Linked DNA regions of Homo sapiens: all the other regions are linked to region 1. The links come from fine-mapping of genetic effects on gene expression. A gene starts in region 1. Each other region holds a variant in brackets. All regions are shown on one strand. Distances are between the middles of the regions.

Region 1 (8,174 bases):
CTGCAAAGACAGCAGCAAGCATTATACGGTCATCTTGAATGATCCCTTTGAAATTTTTTTTTTGTTTGTTTGTTTAAATCAAGCCTGAGGCTGGTGAACAGTAGCTACACACCCATATTGTGTGTTCTGTGAATGCTAGCTCTCTTGAATTTGGATATTGGTTATTTTTTATAGAGTGTAAACCAAGTTTTATATTCTGCAATGCGAACAGGTACCTATCTGTTTCTAAATAAAACTGTTTACATTCATTATGGGGTATGTATGACCTTCATTTTCCAAGAAATAGAACTCTAGCTTAGAATTATGGATGCTCTAAAATGTCAGAATGGGAACTCTCCTCGAAGTTCTCCCAAACTCAGAGACAGCACTGCCTTCTCCTAAATGATTATTCTTTTCTCCCTGTTTTCTGGTATTTTCTAGCATCCTTCTCACCACAGCCATAACCCTTTTTTACTTCCATTAGGCCGTATAACTGGAGAGACCTGCTGCTCGTTATATAATTATCTGATACCAAACACAAGCGATTCTGAATGTACACACACGTTTATCTATAGAGCATAAGGTAAAACAATTTTGTTTAACATTTTGGTATTGTTTACAAATGTTATTAAAACATGCAAATTCATTTTGAGAACCTCGAGAGAATTAAACTATTAACTTTAGTAAACACACAGTTTAAGACAAATATAAAGGTTTAGCCAAATGCAACGGGGAGGAAGCACCTGGAATAATTTGTGCTTGCTCAGGGGCTTGTGGACATGGCTGTTCCTGCCAAAGCTGTAGCAGTTATCCAAAAGTTCTTTCAAACTCATATTTGGGGCCACTGAGTTTTTTTTGTTTTTTTTTTTGTTTTGTTTTGTTTTTTCTTTATGTCTCTCCCATTTCTAAAGTGTTTTCTTAAGTTTGTTCTAATTCAGCATATATCATCTCAGAATGGATCCCCAGCAGGAAAAAAAAAAAAAGTTACTAAAAAGGAAAGTATCCATACACTGAAAACTTAAAGCATATTCCTTTTTGGTTGCCTTGTATGTAGAAATCAGTTCTCCAAGTGCTGTGAATGGTGCCACTTAGGAGTAGAAACTGATGATTGTTGAAATGGCCTTTGGGTGGTCTGAAATAGACCAGTGGAAACAGTAGCTTTGTAGGCAAGAAGGCAATAGTAAGAAAATGAAAAATTGACTCCCCAAACTGCCATCACTCCTTTTACCATCTTTTTTGTGTTTTTAGTAGTTTGGTTTCTGACGGAGACAATAGAAACTTACTTAAAAGTAAAATTTAATTCTAGCTGTTGCAAACAGGCCAATATTGGGTCCTCAGTTGGGGCCAACTTGGGTAGACGAGACAGTAGAAACTTCTGTTTTCTGGGAGCTGCATGTGTCGGATTCATCTGTCATGGCCTTCCCACACACCATCTTCATGATGCAAGCTTGGAACTGGAGAGAAAGGTACAATTGGAGATAACCTTGGCAGATGAGGAAGTATGGGAAAAAAGACCTTATTCTCTGTATCACCAAAGCCTTGCACAATGCTTTGTACCCAGAATGCCCTTAGGTGGTTTTGAATCTATCTTCCCCATCCTGAAAACTATCTAGATTCCAGTCTAGAACTACTCCTGGGTCTACGGTAATCCTAAACTGGTCAAGTCTGAGACCTCACTGTTGGTAAATTCACAAACCATCCTGCTTCATAAAAGCACTGTCAGCAGAGGCCCCTCCATTACTAGCAGGTGCTCCCAGCTGGAAAGGACTGCCAATTCTCTTCTATCCAGGGAGGTTTCAAATTAGTTTTGAGTCTACCTCTGGGATTGAGGAAACAATACCATCTGAAAGTAGGGTTTTTGCCACTTAGGGTTTGGTGTTTATTAGCTCGGATTTCAGATGGGATAGGAAATCCCCCAGTACCTTCAGATGATAAGATATTTTAGAGATTTTTGCATGTGGTATGATTTCTGTGCTTCACACATGCTCGTGCAGGCTAAAAGTTGGAAGGGAAATGATTAAGAAATTATTAAATGCAAGGACTGAAAATTGAGAGGAATCTGAGTTTTTATTTTTATTTTTTTAATTTTATTTAAGTTCCAGGATACATGTGCAGGATGTGCAGGTTTGTTACATAGGTAAACGTGTGCCATGGTGGTTTGCTGCACGAGTTTTTCAATAAAATGCTTTCATTCATCCTGTTCTTTGGAGCAACTTCATTTTCCTGACTCAAGTTCTTTCCTCCGGGGTTCTATTTTCTCGTCTTGATAACCGTGCCTTCCTCCCTGTGCTTACCAAAGGCTTCCCAACCTACTCGGGGGTTTTGTGGCTTCCCTCGTCTACTAGAAACCTGGGTAGAGTCCAGGGTGCTCTGAGTTAAAAGTCAATGGTGAGAAAAGAACCAGGGTCTTCTGGACCATAGGAATGTGAATAAAGAGCTTTACCTGCTTATTCATGAAGCAGTAGATGATGGGATTGTAGATGCAAGCACTCTTGGAGAAGAATGAAGGAATGGTGACAAGCCGTAAGTCCAGCCCATGGTTACGGTTGTTGACCATGTACATGGCGAAGGCCGCGTAGGGCACGTAGCAGACACAGAAGGATCCTACCATCACAACCACCATGCGGCTCACCTCCCGTTCAGCCTTCTGGGTCGTAGCTGACTCCTGCTGCTGAGCTGCAACCTGGGGTGGAGCACGGAAAGCATCACATCTCTCTTTTTCCTGGCCCTCTGGATGCTTTTTTTTTTTTTTTTTAATTTTTAATTTTTAATTTTCTTTTTGAGACCGAGTCTCGCTCTGTTGCCCAGGCTGGAGTTGCAGTGGTGCAGTCTCGGCTCACTGAACCTCCACCTCCCGGGTTCAAGTGATTCTTTTGTCTCAGCCTCCTGAGTAGCTGGGGTTACAAGCACACACCACCATGCCCAGCTAATTTTCGCATTTTAGCATTTTGCCATGTAGGCCAGGCTGGTCTGGAACTATTGACCTCAGGTGATCCGTCTGCTTCGGCCTCCCAAAGTGCTGGGATTATAGGCGTGAGCCACTGCGCCCGGTCTCTGGATGCTTTTCTGTGGGATGGGGGAGGGGGCATCCACTCTGATTGCCTCTTTTCTGTCCCATCTCCTGGCCTAGTTCCTTTGGATCTCCATCATTCTCCCTCCTCCTACTTCCTTTGCTGCTTTTAGATACCCTCTCTGGCTATGGACATTTCCAGGCATCTTATGTTTCAGAGCACTCTTCCTTCTCATGTGGAGCCCCGAACCCCTTCTTCCCTGACTATCAAATGCCACTCACAGCTTTCAGGGCCCTCAGCAGCTGAGTGTAGGAGAAGCAGATGAGGGAGAGAGGCACAATGAAGCAGAAGATGAAGAGGAACCACGTATAGGACTCGCTGCGGTATTTGGTGCCCACGGTGTACCAGTCAGGGCCACAGGAACACTGCAGGCCCTCAGGGATGAACCTGCAAAGGACCAAACACTTGCTCACTGGACTCTCCACAAGAGTGCAGTGGGAGCTGAGATGCCTGGATTGTGTTCTCCACTTAGAACCCACGGAATGCCCTAAGGCTTCAAGCAGGGGGGTTTTCTGTCCTGACTGGGAGAAGCTACAGCAATTCCAACTGCAGAGTAAACGTTAGCACTTGTCTCCCACTGCCCTTTCGCCTCATATTGCAACTCTTTAAAAGTAGAGGTCAAAGACTAAATAGTTATACCCAAGCTCTCTTTCCACCCACATCAACCTGAGCTCCTAGTTAACTCAGCACCACTGCCCTGCACTCTCACCGGCTCCAGCCAAAGAAGGGTGGGATGGAGACGCCAATACCAATGGTCCAGGTAGCCAGGACCACCGTCAGTGCATGCTTGGAGCTGAAGCGGAAGTTGCCGAAGGGCTTACAGATGACAATGTAGCGCTCAAAGGCCAGGAAGGCCAGTGACCATCCTGTAACCAGACCTGTGGTGAAATGTGAGGATAATGGGCTAGACAGAGCCCCACCCAGCCTGGCTGGCAGAGTGGCAAACAGATCGGGTGGAGCAAGCACAGAGAGACAGGGCTGGACTGACATTTGGAGTGAAGACTCAAACATCCTATTTTAGCCAAACTTCTAGTCTGGGTTGCTTTGTACCCCAGTATTTTAAAAAGCACCAGACTCATTTCCCCCAGACTCCTCTTTAGGAACCCCCTCCAGTGGAGTAGCAACCTTTGCCTTCCCCTAACCCCTTTTTCCCCTGCAGTACCTGCTACAGTGCCCAGGAAGCCCTCCAAAGCACAAACATGGCGACCGAAGACGAAGTATCCGTTACAGCTGGCGACGAAGACAGGGAAGACAGAGAAGATGCAGAGGAGGAAGCCTCCGAAGGACACGTTGACCAGAATGTAGTTGAGGGGCTGCCGCAACTTTTTGTAGCGCAGTGTGGCCACCAGCACCATGGCATTGAGTGGGAACCCTATAAGGAAGACAGTGCCCATGAAAGCTGCCTGGAGGTAGAAGGCCCAGACAGGGGCAATGTGGTACTGAGGCCCATCCCACGGCCCCACTGAAGAGATATTTTTGAACAGATAAAACTCTTCCTCCGACATTTTTCTCATGGATGCCCCACACCCCCCTCTGAGTCCTCTTATAGGTGATCCTCCCACCCCACAAAACCCCTCCTCTAAAAACACTTGGGCTCTGTGAATGATCAATACTAATCCTAAACCTCCCAAGGACAAAGTTTGGGATTAGAAATCCCTAAACCACTACCTAAACCTTTTGTGGCCCCAAAGCCGATTGTGTTCTTCAGAGGATAAGAGATTGGGCTCAAATAATCTGGATATGCAATGCTGGGTGCTGGGATGAACAGAAGTGGACTCCCTGAGGTCTGGGAGGTGCTGACCCATATTCACTGAAGATGCTTCCACTTTTTTGTTCTTTTAATGGGGCTATAGAAAGGGCACGCCTCTTATTTTGGCTTCTGGCACAACTGTATCAGTTAAGTTTTCCTCAACTCATCTGCCCCTTTGTGGAAGGTGCCCATCTTAAGTCTGCTGAGAGGCTAGGAACCAGCCCTGGGCTGCAGGAAAGGGCTGGGAGTGGGGAGTGCCCTGGAAGCACATCAGTAAACAGCCTTGATGGAACAGGACTTAGGCAACTTGACAATGCCTAGAGGTCTAGGGCATCCCTGAGCCAGGCTGCCTCCATTTCTTTGTGTTGAATCTACTCAAAGAGTGTGCCTTTCCTACTCAGACCTCCAGCCAGGGAGGTGGGTCTGTTCACTGTCCTTACGCCATGTTCATGCCTACCCCTACCCTTAGCTCAACAAGTCGCCACAGTCTTCCTCCTGTCTGTTCATTGAAGTCTTATCTAGCCCTCACAGCCTACCTCACAAACACCTCTTCTGTGCAGCCCACCCCAGTGACACCAACTCTGCTTTAAGTTCCACCTGCACTTGTACTCAGTACTACACTTTAGGCTTTATGAATGAATCTTTTCCACCTCAGCAGATCATAAATATATAGATGAGTTGGCCGGGCGTGGTGGCTCAAGCCTGTAATCCCAGCACTTTGGGAGGCTGAGATGGGTGGATCACAAGGTCAGGAGATCGAGACCATCCTGGCTAACGGTGAAACCCCGTCTCTACTAAAAATACAAAAAATTAGCTGGGTGTGGTGGTGGGCGCCTGTAGTCCCAGCTACTTGGGAGGCTGAGGCAGGAGAATGGCGTGAACCCGGGAGGCGGAGCCTGCAGTGAGCCGAGATCACGCCACTGCACTCCAGCCTGTGGGACAGAGCGAGACTATATATATAGATGAGTTAAAAGTGACACACTTTAGGTATAAGTAAGTTTAAAAGTGAAAGGATGGTCCAGTAATGGCAGAATAGTTTATTAGATGAATGCCCCCTTAGGCAAAAAAATTGTAAACTGGACACAATATGAAAAACAACTTTTTGAAAACACCTAAAGTATCCAAAGCAGGCAGAAACTGAAAGGAACTCAACTCTTCAATGAAAAGAACCATCTACATTGTTGTTTTTTTTTTTCCCTGAGTGTACTCCCGAGTATAAATGGCACAGGATAGCTAGAACTTGAGCAGAAAGCCCCAGCCTTTTTTGGCTTGAAGAGTCAGAGGACAGAGGACAGGAGACAGAGGACAGTTTGGGACTCCAGAACAGCTGAAGGTGGATTTCCTGGAATGAAAGAAGCCACAGAAGGCAAAGTCTTTAAATCTGCATATAAACTCCCCTCAAATCATAGGCTGACTGCTGAACTGTGGATGGAGGAATTTCCAAGAGCCCAGTAAAAGACAACCACTGGAGGTCTGAAAGAGCTAAGCAGATTTTGACTGTTACCCACTGTAGCAGAGAAAGAGTTTGAATTTGAATCCCAAGTCAGAGGGTCTGGGTAAACACTTAGGGCTTTCTACTTGAAACTCCCAAAAGGCCACACCATAGAGCTAAAATCTATATCCCAGGACTAAATATTTGTTCTGAGAGTAAGGTCAAAGCCAAAGCTGACTCATACTAGCAAAAGATAAAACCAAGCCTCAGCGGGTTCAAGGTGATCAACTAGTAAGTTAATTGCTTATTAGAACAAAAATCAACACCCCTCAATGGAAGATAACCCAGTTTCTAAAGTTCACTATCTACAATGTCTAATATACAATGAAAAATTAAAAGGCGTGTGAAAGAAAAAAAAAACCCACAGGAAAATATGAGTCATAGCCAAAAGAAAAAGCAAGCAATAGAAACAGAACCTGAGATGACCCAAGAAGTTGGCACCAGCAGGAAAAACTTCAAACAGCGATATAAATATATTCAAGAACTGGAAGGAAAAAAATGATCATCGTGAGTTAATGGATCTCAGCAGAAGAATGGGAAAAATAAAATAGCCAAATGGAAATTCCAGAACTGAAAACTACAACATGTCAAATGAAGAATTTACTAGATGGCTGAACAGCAGATTGGACAGCAGAAGAAAGGATCAGTGAACTTACAGATAGATCAATAACAAAAAGATATCTGGAAAATCCCCCAAACACTTATGAATAAGCAATATACATCTAAATATCCTGTGAGTCAAAAGAGAAATCATAAGGAAAAACTGAAAGAATTTCAGCTGAATAACAACAAAAAAGTATTAGAAATTGAAGGAGTCAGCTAAAGCAGTACTTAGAGAAAAATTTATAGCTTTAAGTATTTATACTAGACAATAAATGTTTAAAATTTAAACTTTCACCTTGAGAAGCTGAAAGGGTGAATCAAATCTAAAATAAATAGGGGCAGATACTAAAAAGCAGAGCAGAAAACATTGAAATTAAAAATGAATAAAGAATGGAGAAAAATCAATGAAACCTGAAGCAAAACAAAATAGTTCTCTCCTGTCTCCAGCATCTCCTCAGTAGGATCTGAGCCAATCTCAGGTCACTGCAACCTCCATCTCCTGGGTTCAAGTGATTCTCTTGCCTCAGTCTCCCATGTAGCTGGGATTACAGGTCTGTGCCACCATGCCCAGCTAATTTTTGCATTTTTAGTAGAGACAGGGTTTCACCATTTTGGCCAGGCTGTTCTCAAACTCCTGACCTCAGGTGATCTGACCACCTCGGCCTCCCGAAGTGCTGGGATTACAGGCATGAGCCACTGTGCCCAGCTGACTTAATTATTTCCGAAAGACCGCCACTCTCATGTGCATGCGCACACATGCACATCCCACACAAACACTCGGCCGCAGGTGGGAGTCCTGGTGGAGGTTACTGGGGAGAGCCAGCTAAGGGTCCAGTCAGATTGCCTGAGTCATGGGGGGAACAGGGTGGGAGGGCACTGTCTGGGAAGGTGTGAGGACAGTATTAGGAGGGGCCAAAGATGTGGCCACCTAGCCTTGTACAGATGAGCAGAGCTGCTCATCCGTTGCCCTGGGCAGGACTTCAGGACCAGGGCCAGAGGTCACCTTAAGGTGCCTATCCCTGAGCAGGGCACATGGACTGTGTGTGAGCCTGGCCTGCGTGGAACAAGCCAGCCTCCACTGTCCGCTGGGCTCTGCTGAGGTGCCCACCTCTGCAAACATTTCTGATGGGAGGCTAAATGGCGAGGGTGCAAGACACCCCGGGCCCTTTTACATCCAGTGTACAAGGCTAGGTGGCCACATCTTTGGCCCCTCCTAATACTGTCCTCACGCCTTCCCAGACAGTGCCCTCCCACCCTGTTCCCCCAACAGCAGAGGGAG
Region 2 (8,174 bases), 86 kb after region 1:
CTGTAGGATGAGTTGGGTGGGTGTTCCTTTGTAAAGTGGCTCTTACCCTGTGAGTTAGCCTGAGTTCCCAGACAAAGCCTGCAAGGATGAGGGACGCAGCATCTGAGGCCCCAGCCCTAGGGTGGAGCACCAGTTGGAGCTGGCAGCTCAGGGCCCTGGCTGGGAATGAGGCTGTGCTCCTAGAGTGGCCCTTGGAGGAATTTGAGGGGGAGCCTCAAATGCAGGCAGTGAGTCCCACAGGGTGGCAGTGCTGGCCGAGGGTCCCCTGCCTGGGGAAGAACAGGAAGCCCTTCTGACTAGGTTTGTGCCCCCTCCACCCACCCCTCAGGTCCGAGGCTGTCCGGAGGCCACAGCCTTCACGAAACATCCACGGTTCTGGTGGAGACTGTGACCAAGTCCTCCTCAAGCCGGGGCTCCAGCTACAGCTCCATCCCCAAGTTCTCCTCAGATGCCAGCAAGGTGGTGACTCGGGGCCCTGGGCTGTCCCAGGCCTTCGTGGGCCAGAAGAACTCCTTCACCGTGGACTGCAGCAAAGCAGGCAGGTGGCGGGGGGAGGGCGTCTCCCGGGGTGTGAGCAAGAAGCCGTCAGGGAGCAGGGTGTGGGTCACAGTAGGGGACTCCCTGGTGTGAGCCTGTCCCTCTGCCTCCCTCTCCAGGCACCAACATGATGATGGTGGGCGTGCACGGCCCCAAGACCCCCTGTGAGGAGGTGTACGTGAAGCACATGGGGAACCGGGTGTACAATGTCACCTACACTGTCAAGGAGAAAGGGGACTACATCCTCATTGTCAAGTGGGGTGACGAAAGTGTCCCTGGAAGCCCCTTCAAAGTCAAGGTCCCTTGAATCCCAAAAGTGCCTCCCCAGCCTCAGCCCCCACCTCCAGCCACACACACATTACACACACACACACACACACACAAATGTGCCACACCCAGACACGCACAGAATCAGACACTACAAACACCTGCCTTGGGGGTGAAGTGAAGGCCCAGCCTCCCCACCCCACCGCGCCCCAGGGGTTGGAGGACCTTGTCTGTGTCAGGACAGTGTCCCTCCCTGGGAATGTGACATGAGGGCCGACTGGGGCCAGGCTCAGGGGCAGAGGCTGGGACACAAGGGGCTGGCGAGGGCTGCGAGGCCAGGGAAGCCCTGAGTTTCTGGCGGGGCTGAGCAGTGGGGGAGCATTGTGTTGTGGGTGTCTGTGTGTGAGGTCACCCTCAAACTGCACCGCCGGCCAGATACCCTCCTGACCCCGAGGACTTGGTCTGGTCTCTCTGGTGGCTACAACCCCAGAGTTTTAAGGACTTGGAAAGGAAAGCACAATCAGAGAAGAAAACAGCCCCCGAACCAGCAGGAGTGGCCTGGCACATGGACCGGCCTGAGCGATGTGCACTCCACCCAAGCCAGGCTCCCAGGGGGCCTGATTTCTCTCTCACTGTCTCTTTTTTTAAAATGGTTGCACGGCTCTGCCCCATGGGGGGCCTTTTTTACACACTGCGAGGCCCAGCTTTCTAGGGGACTTTTGCACATGTCATGCAGCTCAGCTGGGAGCTGCTTAGGTGGAAAACTCCAAATAAAGTGCGGCTGTCGCAGAGGGTTGGCTGTTCCTTGGGGGTGTGCTCTGTGTGGCTGGCTGCCCTCTGGCCTGCCACACGAAAAACCGGGCCCTGGGGAGGCAGAGGCGGCCTGGCTGTTCCCTGGAAGATTGACCCAGTCGAGGGAAAGGTCCTGGGGCAGAAGTGAGGTCTGGGATGTTGGCAGAGTGCTTGAAAGAACCGGGGGTGGGGGCTCGGGGATGTGGGAAGGGGTCCCAGCGGGAGGGTTCGTGGACAGTACAGGGTGTGGATACTGTGTTCTACAGTACTGTCCCAGGACCCCTGGGAGGCCAGTTTCAGTTCAGCTTGACCTCAAGGATGTTTTTCAAATTAAGACTTTAAAACAGTGAGCACTGACTCAAACAGGAATATTCCTCAACCAGCAGGCAGGCAGAACCACCTGCAGACTCAGCACCTTCCCCCTAGTCAGTTCCTGAATCAACTTGGCCTGTTTCATGCCCCTTTCCAGCACTAAGCTTGCACAGGGCCTCCCTCCTGAACTCCTGCAACAGCCCTGCCCTGGCCAGCTCCCTCCAACCTCCCCTCCATGCTGCAGCTTGGCGGGGGGGTCACTTTAAAGATAGTATATGCCCCTCTCTGGTTTAGGGCCATCTGTGACTCCCTCCTGCTCCAGAGTAAAGTCTCCTCTTCCTGACAAGGTCTCCAGGGCCACCCAGGTTCAGACAGCAGCCTCCCCAGCCATATGAGTTGGGCAGCAGGCCCACTCTCCATTGTGCCCTCCACCTCCAACCCCCCTTCATTACCTCTGGGCACCCATGCTGTAATTTGGGCCCTTGCCCGGAAACACCTTTGCCTCCCCACCCTCTTCATCTTCCTGGCCAACAGGAAGTTTTCCTGGACCCCTCCCTACCCCTCCTGGATCAGTGCCCCCAGCTCCCAAACTGCCCTGGGACACATCTCTAGTTGCAGTTACGACCCTGAGCTGTGGCCATGTATCCACGGCTCCCCACCAGATGGAGCTCCCTGGCCCTGGGTGTGAATGAGTGAGTGAATGGGTATGAATGAATAAATGAGCAGCTGAGTAGCTGCAGCAGGGAAAAGAAGTCTTTCATTCAACTGATCCCACAATCTAGACCCACCTGGGCATTTCAGCACATGGTGGTGGGCTTGGCAGAAAAACCCACGAGTCCCCAACTCCTAATCCCTGACCTCCCCACCTCTCTCACCAGGCTCTGTGCTTCCTCCCTCTTCCCTCACACCCTCCCACACACCCATCCTCACTCTCTGCCCCCCTCACCCTCACCCTCACCCCTAGATGTGCTAATTTCCCCCTCAGCTTCGGCTGCCTCCACCTGTGTGTGGCTGATAAGCTCACAGACCTCCAGCCTGCCTGCTTCCAGCCAGCCACAGTGTGGCCCTGGGTGCTGAGCCTTACAGGCCCTTCCTCATTAATCCTCATAACAGCCCTATGAGGTGGGGCTACTACCATCTGAAGAAACCAAGGCCCTGGGAATTTCAGTGATGAGTCTGAAACCGTACCTTTAAGTAGTGGGGCACAGATTGAAACCCAGGTGTGCCCGAATCCCAAGCTTATCACACATACAATCGCTAGACCAGACCACGGGCACGTCTCAAGCACTCCAAACTCACAAACCCCATGCCAGACACCGGGAGTGCTGATTTGTTAAAAGGGAGGAGGAAAGAGTGGCTCCTTCCCCTTCAGCCTGCTCATCTTACAGAGGTCACTTTCTTGGCAATGTTACTCCCATCCATGTGCTGCACAGGCCAGAAACCTGGAAATCACCCAGGTCTCTCTCTCTACCTCACTCCCCAAACACATCCACTCTGAAACCAGTTTTGTCCTAAATATCTAAATATCTCTCGGCTCTACCTACTTCTCTGCGTTTCCCATTATCACCACCTGAGTCCTGGCCACCATTATCTCTCACAGTGGCCTCCCAATTTGGTTTCTCCTCCCTCAGTTTCGCCTCTGCACACAGCACAGTCAACAGTGAGTGACAGCTCTAAAACGTAAGTTTGGCGATAGCACTCTCTTACTTGAAATCCCTCAGCAGCTTCAGGATAACTGTCCTCAGGATAACTTCCAGATCTTTTTTTTTTTTTTTTTTTTTTTTTAGACAGAGTCTCACTCTGTCACCTAGGCTGGAGTGCAGTGGCGCCATCTCAGCTCACTGCAACCTCCCTTGCCCGGGTTCAAGCAATTGTCCTGCCTCAGCCTCCCGAGTAGCTGGGACTACAGGCACACACCACCTCACTGGGCTAATTTTTTTTGTATTTTTAGTGGAGATGGGATTTCACCATGTTGGCCAGACTGGTCTCAAACTCCTGACTTCAGGTGATCTACCCGCCTCAGCCTCCCAAAGTGCTGGGATTACAGGCGTGAGCCACCGCGCCCAGCCTGCAGATCCTTTTTTTTTTTTTTTAGACAGGGTCTCGCTCTGCTG[C/G]TCAGGTTTAAGTGCAGTGCCGTGATCATAGCTCACTGTAACCTTGAACTCCTGAGTAAGCCCTGCTGCCTCAGCTTCTCGAGTACCTGGAACTATAAGTGTGCACCACCACGCCTGGCTAATTTTTTTTTTTTTTTTTTTTTTTTTTTTTTGAGACAGAGTCTCGCTCTGTCACCCAGGCTGGAGTGCAATGGCACAATCTCGGCTCACTGCAACCTCCGCTTCCCGGGTTGAAGCAATTCTCCTGCCTCAGCCTCTCGAGTAGCTGGGACTACAGGCGCCCACAACCACGCCCGGCTAATTTTTTGTGTTTTTAGTAGAGACGGGTTTTCGCCATGTTGGCCAGGCTGGTCTCAAACTCCTGACCTCAGGTGATCCACCTGCCTCAGCCTCCCAAAGTGCTGGGATTACAGGTGTGGCGTGAGCCACCATGCCTGGCCTTACCAATTATTTAACTTTCCTTGAAGGCCCTACGCTCTCTAGTCAGTACGCCTTTGCACATGCTGTTCCTCTGCCTAGAACACCGTCTTGTCCTCACTTCTATCCCCTTCATCCTGCAGGTCCTTCAGGTCTCAGCTTAGATCTGAAGCAAGCTTCTTGGGGAAGGGTTCTTTGGACGCCCCCTCTCTCCATGGGTTAGTTACCATGGATGTGTGCTTCCATATACTTTTCACATTCTAACCATTAACACACAGCTTTGTAGTCGCCTGTTCCCTTGACTTTCCACCTCACTAGGCAGTATCATCATTAACTTTTGCATTCCTTTAACTGAACAAACGTGTGTTACTTGTTAACTATGTGTCATAGTTACACACATACATACACGATAAAGACCCAGACCCTGCCCTTGAGATGAGTAACTGCGTCTCTTCTCTGGGGTCTCGGCGTCTAACAGCGTCAGGTCCAAAGCGCTTGTTGAACGAATGAACCAAGGAACGAGTGAATGAACGAATGAATGCCCGCGAAGGACGTGGTGCCGCGCGGTCTTCTGGGAATCGTAGTCCCCTGGTTCGGGCCTGTCTTTACGGCGCAGGCGTATTCACATGGAGGCCGTGTTGCTGTTAATGCGCATGTCCCGGAATGCGGCTGGGAGGACTGCGCATGCTCGAAGGGTGGGGGTTGAGGCCGACGGGGCGCCGTACGGCGGAGGCGGGGTTTCAGTGGCTTCTGGTGCTCTAGGGTGAGCTCTGCCCGGCTGCAGGGATGGCGGGGAGGGGTAAGCTCATCGCAGTGATCGGAGACGAGGACACGGTGACTGGTTTCCTGCTGGGCGGCATAGGGGAGCTTAACAAGAACCGCCATCCCAATTTCCTGGTGGTGGAGAAGGATACAACCATCAATGAGATCGAAGACACTTTCCGGTACGGTACCGCGCGAGGCCTGAACGGGCCCTTCTGCTGCTCGGTGGAGTGCGGGGCGAGGCTGGAGGCTGCCCGGACGGGGGTGAGGGGACGATCCTGAAAGTCCTTCCGCCCTTCCGGAGCGGAGGCCTCCGCGCCCCAAGTCCCCGTTTGGGGCTCGGTGGGACAGAAGCTGTATCAGGTCCACGAGCCCCCCCACCTCACATGATCGTGTGTCATGAAAGAAGGGGAACAGAGCTCGTGACAGCCTAGACAGTGGGCTTGGACTTTGTTCTGCTTTCTCCTCCTTTAGAGGCTCACCATCGTCCCGTAAGGCAGGGATGATTTTTGTCCTACTCACAGGTGAGAAAACTAAAGCTCGGAGAGGGTAAGGCACACACTAAAGTTACGAGTCGGCAGAGGCAGAGCTAGAATTTGAACCCAATCTCAACCCTTTCTGCCTCCGGTAAGCCAGGTACACACTCTTGGCAGGTCTCCTCAGGCGGCCTCGGAATTTCCTTGTAGTCTTGAGCACAGTAGGCAGAAATGTCGGGACTGTGAGAGCCTTCTGCTAAGACCTTGCACTCAAGCCCTCACTGCCTGCCTTAGGTCAGAGTGTGGGTGCAGGCATGCTTTTAATCCACCAGGGGTCCTGGTGACTGGAATTAAGGATACCAGCCTCCTATTTTATTCCTCACCCCTTCTCCAGGGCCCCTGTACCAAGTCTCAGGAATAAACCACTCACCTGTTTCCCCCAAACAGTCCAGCCCAGGGCTGCTGGCTGAGACTGGTTCCTGCTGCCTGGTGTATTAGGTAGTCCCTGACCTGGGAGGCTGTTATCTGCCATTCTCTAAGCTGTCTGGTAAAGTGACCCAAGTTATCATGGGAGAAGGACAAATTTTACTTCAAGAATTTTTTATGTTTCCAACCAAAAGGGACCTCAGAGATCAAATCTAACCCAGTGACTGGCAGGGGGTGGGTGCTCAGTAAGTAATTTTTAATCAGTAAATAAACGAATGAGTCTGGGTGCAGTGGCTCACGCCTGTAATCCCAACAGTTTTGGAGGCCGAGGCGGGTGGATCACCTGAGCTCGGGAGTTTGAGACTAGCCTGACCAATATGGTGAAACCCCATTTCTACTAAAAATACAAAAATTAGCCAGGCGTGGTGGCGGGTGCCTGTAATCCCAAGAAATCAGGAGGCTGAGGAAGGAGAATTGTTTGAACCTGGGAGGTGGAGACTGCAGTGAGCCGAGATCCACCACTGCACTCCAGCCTGGGTGACAGAGGGAGACCCTGTCTCAAAAAAATAAAAATAAAATAAACAAATGAATGGGTGGGTGACCACAGGAGAGAAGGAGCACAAGGCCAGGTTCTTTTTGTGCAGAAAGTGTGATTCCTTCATCAAGGTGTCCTCTTCCTAGCTTGTGATCTTAGTTCATGCCAAACTTTCCCTCTGACCCCTCCACCACCCTCATCAGGATAGACCTTGAGGCCTTCAGTGGTCTCATCAGCCCTATTTTTAAATAATTTGTTTTCTTTTTAAAAGTTAATGTGTCTTTTTTTTTTTTTTTTTCTGAGACAGGGTCTCACTCCTGTCACCCAGGCTGGATTGCAGTGGCGTGATCGCAGCTCACTGCGGCCTCGACTTCCCAGGCTCAAGTGATTCTCCCACCTCAGCTTCCTAAATAGCTAGGACTACAGCTTCCCAAGTAGCTGGCACATGCCGCCACATCCAGCCATTTTTTTTTTGTGTGTATATATATAGATAGATAGATAGATCCGCCACATCCAGCCATTTTTTTGTGTGTGTATATATAGATAGAGAGAGAGAGAGAGAGAGAGGGAGATGGGGGTCTCACTATGTGGCCCATTCTGGTCTCAAACTCCTGGGTTCAAGCAATCCACCTGCCTCGGCCTCCCAAAGTGCTGGGATTACAGGCGTGAGCCATCACAGCTGGCCTTCAGTATCTGCACATAAAAAGGGATCTGCATACATATAATCTTATCCTTCCCCTTTCTGACACATCACTGCATATTGAATACACCAGTGTGCACCCTAATCAATCTTCATTACCAGTTCACTTGGAAGCCTTCCGGGCAGTGTTGTAGAAGCCAACCCTAATCAGCGTGACCCTCCGCTTTGGGATGAAATTGATTCTAGGTAGGGTTGACAGAGGGTTGAGCGTGGCAGCCTTTCCCCTTGTCCTCTGTGCCCTCTGGGTCATGCTCATTCCCCTCCACAGCCCAGCCCAACAACTCGGAGAGGGCTGCCTGGGTAGGAGAGACGGCAGCCCCCAGAGCTGTCCTGGACTCCCTTCTCATCTCTCCCCACAGGCAATTTCTAAACCGGGATGACATTGGCATCATCCTCATCAACCAGTACATCGCAGAGATGGTGCGGCATGCCCTGGACGCCCACCAGCAGTCCATCCCCGCTGTCCTGGAGATCCCCTCCAAGGAGCACCCATATGACGCCGCCAAGGACTCCATCCTGCGCAGGGCCAGGGGCATGTTCACTGCCGAAGACCTGCGCTAGGGGACTCCTCATAGCCCTCAGCCCTTCCCTCGTTTCCAGGCCTCTCCCCAGGCTTGCCATCAGCCTTCTTTACTTTTTGAGCCTCTGATTTCCAATTCCCTGCTCCTTCCCACTCCATTAAGAGGCTAGGTGAGGCGCTTCTAGGTTGCTGGGGCTCTGCTGGTTAAGGAACAGGAAGCCTGACCATCTCCCTCCACTACCTCTTCCCTGTGCTGTTACACAGTGTCATTGTTGATGTTAAATTAAAGTCATATTCTTGCTTCTCTCCAGATGGG
Region 3 (8,174 bases), 55 kb after region 1:
GGCAGGCGTGCACTTGGGCCTAGGTGTGCTAGAACCAGGGACTCAAAGCACCTTCAGGAGCCTCCATCTCTCCCCGCTGCTGCCCTCTGCATAACTGCCTCCTTTCTGTGAGCTCCCTGCAGCCTAGCCCTGTCTGGTTTCCCTTCCCAGGCCAAGAGGTAGAGCAGCCACCCGCTGCCACTCCTGTCAAGGACCAGCTGCTTTTGGGGCAGGGTGGGTGGTTCTAAAGATGACAGGTACTGCCGGTTCTGATTGTGGCAGAGGGAATGTTGGGTTGCAGGGAAGGGGAGAGGGGAACAGCCTGGAGATCCAGGCAGTGGTCCCCACGGAGGTGTGGACACAGAGCTGCAGGGGAAGGCCTCTCTCACCAGAACCCCTTAGTCTCCAAGATAATCAGAGGAAGCAAACTAATTGTTTTGGATCACCTATTAGATGCCAGGCACCATGCTAATCATCTTTCTTGTGATTTCCTTCCATTTTCACACATTAAAAAAAAAAAAAGACGAGAAAACAGGCCCAAAAGAGCTACATTACTTGCCCAAGGTTGCAGAGCTAGAAGTAGAGAGGCTGGAATTCAGCCCATGGATCATTCCACTCTACCACACTGTCCCTGGAACCTGGGTCAGAGCCACAGTCAGTATCAGTATCACTGAAAGTGCCTGTTATGACCTGGCCAGCCCAGTATCATCACAGGTGACTGTGGAAATGTCCCTGGTTCCAGAAAAACAGGATTTTCAAACATGGCTCATTGTATCCGCTCACTTGGATTCAGCTCAGCCCAAGATAAATATGGCCAGTATTGGTGGCTGATGAGCAGAGCCCCTTGACGGCAGAGGCAGGACCAGGTGAAGAGCCAGGCAACCTGGTCTCCTGAGATAGGTCAGCAGGTGGTGAGTCAGGGGGCTATAAACAGCCTGTGGCCCCAGCCAGCACTGCCCAGATACTCAGCTGATGAAACCCCTTGTAACCCCCTGTGTGCCCCTGCCTGGCTTGGGGAGGAGCATGTCAGCGCTCCTCGGGGAGGGGGCCCTACTTGGCAGGCCGGGCCCAGCATTGTGCACGGTCTGTTCCAGCCTGGCTGGCCAGGCCCAGGGCCTGGGCTCATGGGCTATATTGAGGGCTGAGTCACCAGCCCGCGCCTGGGTCAGGCTGAGTGTCACTGGCTGCTGGGGCCTGAGTCAGGCCCCGATTTATCCTGGAGAGCAACAGGCTCAGGTTTCTGAGGACGGTTGCGGGGGGTGACGGGAATCATCCTTTGGCACTCTGTACCCTCCTCTCCTCTGCCAACCATTCACTTGATCCCCTGGGACCCGCACACTGACCTCCCCTGGAGCGAGCTCTTGAGTCAGAGGGAAAGCAAGGGAAGCTACGCTGGGAGTTCCTTCTCCCCTCCCTGGCTTCCTCCGGCCTCTCCACCTGAACAGAGGCGCTCAGCTGGCTGGGGGACCTCAGATAATGCCTGCAAAACAGGACTGTGGACCATTAGGGTCTGTAAAGGGGCTGTCAGCTCCGAGCTACCTCACCTTAACCCTTTCTCCTCCCCAGCAGCTCAAAGAGGAATGCATCCTTTCTCAGATCTGTGTCTCAGTTTACTCACCAGGGATTCAGAGGCAGCACTGCTGAACCCTGAGCCCTTGGCACATCAGGTTGGCTGTCAGAAGTCGGCCTTTGTACATACACAGTTCCCTTGTGAGGCCCAGCTGCGTGTCCTAGGAGCGGGGCCTCTCTCCACAGCAGAGCTCAGCCTCTCAAGTGTATGGACAGCACGGGTGCCTGATGGGTGGATTTAGCCATGAGTTGAAGGTGGCTTGGGGAGAATGAGAGTTCTAGAGATAGGGAGAAGGGGTTGCCAATAGGAGAGTGGAATTCCTGAGCACCTCGTCACAGGCAGCCGACAGAACATGAGCCGCAGGGCCCAGGCTATTTATACCTCGCCTGTCACTATCAGGGTCCCCACAGCTCCCCCCACCTCCAGCCACACACAGCAGGTCCTTTTGCTCTTTCTGGTCCCTTCTCTACTCCTCCCCCTCCCTACCTAAGGACCAGGCAATTTCATTCATAGACCCCTGTCATCATAAGCATTGCCCCCACAGAACCCTGACACTTTTTCCTCAGCTCCGTAACAGGGGGTGCCCTCATTGGCCCTTGGGGGAAAGAGCCCCCAAAGATGCTCACTATCCCTTCTTTTACACCAGGTCTAGGGGTAGAAGAGGAATTAGATATAATGATTCATCTAAAAGGGCCCAGAACCTTCCCTGGCTTAAAGAAACTTCTCAGGCTCAGATATGGCCTCCTAGCCAGCTCAGCTAGACTTACTAGGTCTAGAAGGATGGGAAAGCTGAAGACACATGGCTTGAAAAAGGGGGAACTGGGAGATATGGCTGCACGTATGTTACAAAGTTGCAGAATGGATCCTCTCCTTATAGAAATACATTCTCTAGGCCCAGCACGGTGGCTCACGCCTGTAATCCCAGCACTTTGGGAGGCTGAGGCGTGCAGATCACCTGAGGTCGGGAGTTCGAGACCAGCCTGACCAACATGGAGAAACCCCGTTTCTACTAAAAATACAAAATTAGCTGGGCGTGGTGGTGCATGCCTGTAATCCCAGCTATTTGGGAGGCTAAGGCAGGAGAATTGCTTGAACCTGGGAGACAGAGGTTGCGGTGAGCAGAGATCATGCCATTGCACTCCAGCCTGGGTAACAAGAGCAAAACTCCATCTCAAAAAAAAAAAAAAAAAAAAAAGAAAAAAGAAAAAGAAATACGTTCTCTAGCTCTTTCTCCTCACCCCAGGCCAGAGTCTGTTTGGGTGCCTCGGTTTCCCTGCTGTTCTATTCCCCAGGCCTGCAGCCTTTGGCTTGCCCTGAGTGCAGCTTTGCCTGGGCATCCCAGCTGGCTCCCTTAGGCTCTCCCTGACCACTCTGCCCCTGGTCCTGCCTACCCACCTGGTCACATTTCCCCCTGGCTGCTCTGGCTGGGGCTCTCCCTGTTTCTGCCTGGCTGACCCACCCTTTCCCTGGCAGGATCTGCCCTGTGGCCCAAATGGGCATGTTGCCCAGGGGGCTCCCTGGCACTATGGGGGAAGAGTCTCTCCTTCCCCTCTTATCATCTCAGTTGAGTCAGACTTGGGGGAGGGGGATACACAGTGTGAGTCACTGGGTACCCTTTTCCTGAGCTCAGCTTCATACCGAGGCGATGAGGCCAAACGGGCTGGTGACAGGGACACTGAGTCAGGGGCAGGGGCCCCGGTCTTACTCCTGGGCCTCTGGATTTGGGCCCTACATGAGGCTTTTCTATCTGTAAAGTCAAGCAATGGCTGGGAGGCACACACAACCCCCCGCCCCCCCGCAGGCTTCTCCTTCATTGGCCCGGGCAAGGTCCCTGCTTCCTCTCAGGCCGTCTCTGCACAAGCACACACACTTCCCTTCCCTGTCCACAGGTGGACAATGCCCTGGGCTAGGAGCCAGCCCTCGCAGGCCCTGTCAACAGCCTGCCACCAACTAGTCTAGAAAATTCTGTGAACACCAGATCAGTGGGTTTTGCCCTAATCACTGGCCTCAGTTTCCCCATTTACCTCTTCAGCCCGTGCGGGGTGTGGAGGGAGCATATTTCATTCCTGACAGTTTGGTGTGTTGGGTGTGGATGGAGAACTGTCGGCCCTCCCCGCCACCTTCCAGCGCGGCGGCACCGGGGGCCCAGGGGGTGGGCGCCCTCAACCCCGTCCCGCCGCCCGGGCGGCGCGGGGGAGGGGCGGCGGGGGCGGGGCGTCCTGTGCGGCGCGGCCCCCACCCGCGGGCCGGGCGGCATTCCTGGGAGGCCGGCGCTCTGACGTGGACCCGGGGGCCGCGGGCGCGGCGGGGGGGCGGCGGTCCGGGGGCTTCTTAAACCCCCCGCCCCGGCCCAGCCCGCCCTTCCCGAGCACCGCTCCGGCCCTGGAGGG[A/G]GAGAGAGCCAGAGAGCGGCCGAGCGCCTAGGAGGCCCGCCGAGCCTCGCCGAGCCCCGCCAGCCCCGGCGCGAGAGAAGTTGGAGAGGAGAGCAGCGCAGCGCAGCGAGTCCCGTGGTCGCGCCCCAACAGCGCCCGACAGCCCCCGATAGCCCAAACCGCGGCCCTAGCCCCGGCCGCACCCCCAGCCCGCGCCAGCATGATGAACAACAGCGGCTACTCAGACGCCGGCCTCGGCCTGGGCGATGAGACAGACGAGATGCCGTCCACGGAGAAGGACCTGGCGGAGGACGCGCCGTGGAAGAAGATCCAGCAGAACACATTCACGCGCTGGTGCAATGAGCACCTCAAGTGCGTGGGCAAGCGCCTGACCGACCTGCAGCGCGACCTCAGCGACGGGCTCCGGCTCATCGCGCTGCTCGAGGTGCTCAGCCAGAAGCGCATGTACCGCAAGTTCCATCCGCGCCCCAACTTCCGCCAAATGAAGCTGGAGAACGTGTCCGTGGCCCTCGAGTTCCTCGAGCGCGAGCACATCAAGCTCGTGTCCATAGGTCAGTGCCGGGGGCGAGGGCACGGGCGCTGCGGGGATAGGGTCGTCCCATGGGGCAGGGGCACAGGTGCGGGGTGGGCGCGCGGGGAGCTGAGAGACAGGGCGGAGGGCACCCCCCGGTATAGAGAGAAGACCCTGGCCCCGGCCCTCCCACCCATCGACAAGGGCCATGGGCACTGCCTGCACACCCCTCTGGGGACAGCGAGCACTCCCTGGGTGCCCCGGGGAGTCCAGGCCTTAGGGTTTGCGAGCCCTCCAGCTGCCGCCTCCCCATGCACATTCCCACCTCCCGCCTCGGCTCACCGTTCCCTTTCCTTCCATCGGGCAACCCTAGCCCACACTCGGGAGGACAGAACCAGTGCCTGTCACTGATTCCTGGGGGCATCTCCCCGCCCCCAACAAAACAAGTGGCTTCCCAGCTTCACAGCCCCTCCGCGGGCTGGGAGAGGGCTGAAGACAGGTCCCCAACCACTGCCCGCGTCTGCGGGCTCTGGGGCCGAGGGGAGCTGGCGCGGGAGGCCCTCTTCGTGCATGTGCTCAGCAGCTGGGTTCAGGCCCGGGGGCCAGGACAGGCAGGGCCCAGCCTCAGAAACCTAAAAAGGCACTGAGCGAGCGCGGGGAGACTTAACCCCTGTCTGTCCTCCTCCTGCTTCAGCCTGCGGTGGAGGGGGCTTCCGCAAGTCCAGGCCCTGCCCCAGCCCACCCCCTACCGCGGGATTGGCTGCAGCTAACGGTCTGGGCTGCGGGGAGGGAGGGAAAGGCCTGTGGAAGGGAGGAAGTCTTTGAGTGTAACCAGATTTGGAAGGTGTGTAGTGCAGGGTGGGGGCGGGGAGGCACTCTAGTCTTGGGAGCAGAGACGCCAAGGGTGGGCTTGGAGTGGCAGGAGGCTGTCCTGCCCTCAGAGTCCTGCAGTCATCCCTGAGGCTGGGGGCCTGGGGAAGATCCCCCCGCCCACCCCTGTGGAGAGCTCTTAAGAACCCTGCTGGGATTTGCAGGACGAGGTCCTTGGACGGTGCACCCCACGGCCCCAGGAGGGGAGTTTCATGTGGGGCCAGGTGGGCCCCACACAGGATGTTCCCTGAGATTTCTCCAGATGACTTGATGTCTGTCAGCCCCACTCTCCCTTGGGGCCATCTCTAGGCCTCCTGATATAGCAGCTGAGGTCAGCCCAGGGCCCTTTGCCCCGTCCAGTCCCCTCCCTAGCCCTTACCCCCTCCTGCCCCAATACTGCCCCCCCACCCCACCCGCCTGCCCTGTCCTGGAAATAGCCCTGCCTCCGTGACACAGCAGATGTCTCTGAGCTTTCCAGAAGGACAAGGCTGAGGGCAGGGGGTGGGGGAGGGAGCCTGGAGTGTGTAGTGAGACTGAGGGCTACGTGATGGAGGCTGAGGGGTCAGAGAGGAGTCAGTCCTGGGCCGGCATCCTCAGCAGGCTGGGTTTTGAAAGGCAGGACTGACTGTACCAGGTGGGGTCTGGGGGAAGAGCCGGAGGCTTCGGCAAGACATATAGGAAACCGCTCAGCCTTCCCCTCCCCTCCAGTCTGCGGGGGCTCTCGGCCCCTCTCCAGGCCTCGTCCTTCCTGAGCACACCTCTCCCCTCCCCCGTGGCGGTGCCTGGCTCCAGCCCCCTTGGCTCAGCAGAGGAGGGGCTGGCTCAGAGCAGAGGGGAAGAAGCAAAAGCTGGTTTGAGGGTGGGAGGGAAGCTCCCTGGTTCCCGCTGGGAGGAAGGGGAGGCAGTCCCCATTTGGGCCAAGTGGCTCACTGGCGCTGATGAGATAAGCTGTCAGCAATTCAGCTGCCGGCCCCAGGCTGAGGCTGGAGGGGAGGGGACACCGGCAGCGACCAGCTGGGGCGCCCCACCATGAGGAGGTTCAAAGGGGCTGCCCACGAGGCAGGGGCATCCTGCTTCTGCTAGCTCCCCTACTCCATTTAGTGGTGGAAAGGGGCTATCCATGGGGCCACCTTCTGAGTATTGTCTCAGCACCGAAATCGAGCATCTGGGCACCTCAGGGGGTGTCAGAAAGACTCCCCACTTCTCTTTCCAGGAGGGAAGTCAGGGTCTGGAGTAGCAGCTGGGATCCAAGCCCACCTGAAGAAGGGGCACTGAGCCCAGGTTAAAGGAGCTGTGCCCTTCATATCCTCACCACCTTGTCCTGGCCCCCCGTTGCCCCTCGTTCCCTCCGAACAAAGAGGCCTATGAGGCAGCTCTGTCTCGCAGCTGTTCCCCAGTTGCTATTCCTTCTCCTGGAGCCAACAACCAAGGGAGGGGCGGGAGGGGGCAGCAGCTGTCCCAGCACCTCCCTAGGCCCAGCCCTCTCCTCCCCCTCCATTTGAGGCCTGGGGTGGCCTCGGGAACTAGCTGTCTGGCTCCTCCCACTCCTTTGGGGGTATCCCTAGGCAGATGGAGAAGTGGCTTGGTGAGCCCTGGTGGCGCTGAGCTCCTCTCCTCTGCCTGGCCTCCGAGAGGGAGGAGGGAGAGGGAGGTCATTGCTTCCAGAGTGGGACTTGGGGCCCCACTGCCCTTCTCCTGCCCCAAGCCTGGACCACTTGCTGTCTGGCCCAGGGCCAGTTGCTGGGGAGAAACTTCCCTCTCCAGCAAATATGAATGACCACCCTCCCCATATACACACCGCCCCCCCCAACCCCTGCAGCCTCAAGGCTTCCTGCCCAGGGGTCTGGCTCCAGTTTGCAAGAAGTACTTCTGGGCGTGTGAGCTTTGGAGGCTGTCGGGGTTGTGAGAGGCTGGGGGCACTGGGGCATCCAGACTGTGTGAAAGTGTTGGAGCCTGTGTGTTTGAGAGAAAGCACCGGGAGGCAGGGAGTGAGTGTGTCATGGAATCTGAAAGCTGCCAAACCATTGTGCTGCAGTGGAGCCAGGGGAAGGGGGTGGGCTGGGGAGCTGCTGGGGAAGGAAGGATGAATCAGTGACAGGGTGGGGGAGCCCAGGCGGCCAGAGCCCCAGCCAGAGGGACAGGGAGACTGAGGCACCCCTCCCGGGGCAGGTGGGAGTGGGGCAGGGGATGCCCTGGATTTCCCAGGCTCTCGGTCTCCTAACACTTTCCCCAAGACCTGGGGAAGGGTGGAGGGGAGAAGATGTGTAAGGGGAAGGCTCCACTCCACCCTCTCCCATCTCTCGGGCAACATCAGTAAACAAGACTGTCTTCCACCCCCTTCCAGCCTCCTGAAAGCAGTGCTTTGGGAAGCTGATAGATTTCAGAACTTCATTGCCCTTTACAAGTAAGCTGAATTCCAAAGATCTATCTACATGCTAGGCCACCCCAGGCTTCTGGATATTTCTTTCTGATTGTTAAGGGGGATCTAGGCGCCCCCCCCCCCCAAATCTTGAGGAACCAGTTCTGGCTCAAAGGATTCCTCAAAGGAGGTGATGGGTGGAGTGTGTCAGCTCCTGAGGCTGGAGTCCCTCTGGCCCCCAGCCTTTGACAACATGACTTTCAAGACTTAACTGAGAATGTACTGGACCCCACCCACCCACCCCTGCCCCACTATCAGAACCCCTTGGTTTCTAAAGCCCTTTCTGGCATTCGGGGTAGAGTGTGAGTGGAAACTTGTCCTACCCCACTCCAATTTCAGTTCTTAAAATATTCATTCAACCAATATTTATTGAGACCTTACTATGTTTAAGACCTTCATTGTAGAAAGATAAAACCTAGTGTCTAGAGTGAAAAA

Direction of the effects. Positions count from the first base shown, and alleles are read on the strand shown. Sizes are in standard deviations (SD) of each study's normalised expression.
In carriers of allele G in region 2, the expression in prefrontal cortex of the gene that starts at base 4,568 in region 1 tends to be higher than with C alone (large effect, 1.4 SD a copy in CommonMind).
As copies of G replace A in region 3, the expression in skeletal muscle of the gene that starts at base 4,568 in region 1 goes up (large effect, 2.0 SD a copy in FUSION).

Evidence for each region. PIP is the estimated chance that this variant, and not a neighbour inherited with it, causes the effect.
Region 2: its variant is fine-mapped to the expression of OPN1SW in prefrontal cortex (CommonMind, PIP 0.95).
Region 3: its variant is fine-mapped to the expression of OPN1SW in skeletal muscle (FUSION, PIP 0.95). The same link has a PIP of 0.9 or more in subcutaneous fat.

The regions. Positions count from the first base shown.
Region 1 is chr7:128,771,227-128,779,400 of GRCh38, forward strand. OPN1SW (opsin 1, short wave sensitive) reads right to left here and starts at 4,568. Exons shown (of 5, transcript NM_001385125.1): 1 at 4,213-4,568; 2 at 3,760-3,928; 3 at 3,272-3,437; 4 at 2,423-2,662; 5 at 1,259-1,433. The coding sequence starts at 4,555. The coding sequence ends at 1,314. CALU (calumenin) reads left to right here. Exons shown (of 7, transcript NM_001219.5): 7 at 1-2,174. RefSeq lists cis regulatory regions at 4,554-5,121, 4,562-5,556, 4,565-8,174, 4,565-8,174, 4,565-5,664 and 1 more.
Region 2 is chr7:128,857,680-128,865,853 of GRCh38, forward strand. It overlaps FLNC (filamin C), which reads left to right. Exons shown (of 48, transcript NM_001458.5): 47 at 329-538; 48 at 657-1,593. The coding sequence ends at 844. ATP6V1F (ATPase H+ transporting V1 subunit F) reads left to right here and starts at 5,177. Exons shown (of 2, transcript NM_004231.4): 1 at 5,177-5,383; 2 at 7,698-8,168. The coding sequence starts at 5,226. The coding sequence ends at 7,899. FLNC-AS1 (FLNC antisense RNA 1) reads right to left here and starts at 4,947. Exons shown (of 4, transcript NR_149055.1): 1 at 4,846-4,947. RefSeq lists enhancers at 514-1,014, 4,791-4,900, 4,981-5,470. The variant C/G (reference allele first, on the strand shown) is at 4,023.
Region 3 is chr7:128,826,500-128,834,673 of GRCh38, forward strand. It overlaps FLNC (filamin C), which reads left to right and starts at 3,907. Exons shown (of 48, transcript NM_001458.5): 1 at 3,907-4,490. The coding sequence starts at 4,139. RefSeq lists a silencer at 3,963-4,124 and an enhancer at 6,973-7,616. The variant A/G (reference allele first, on the strand shown) is at 3,940.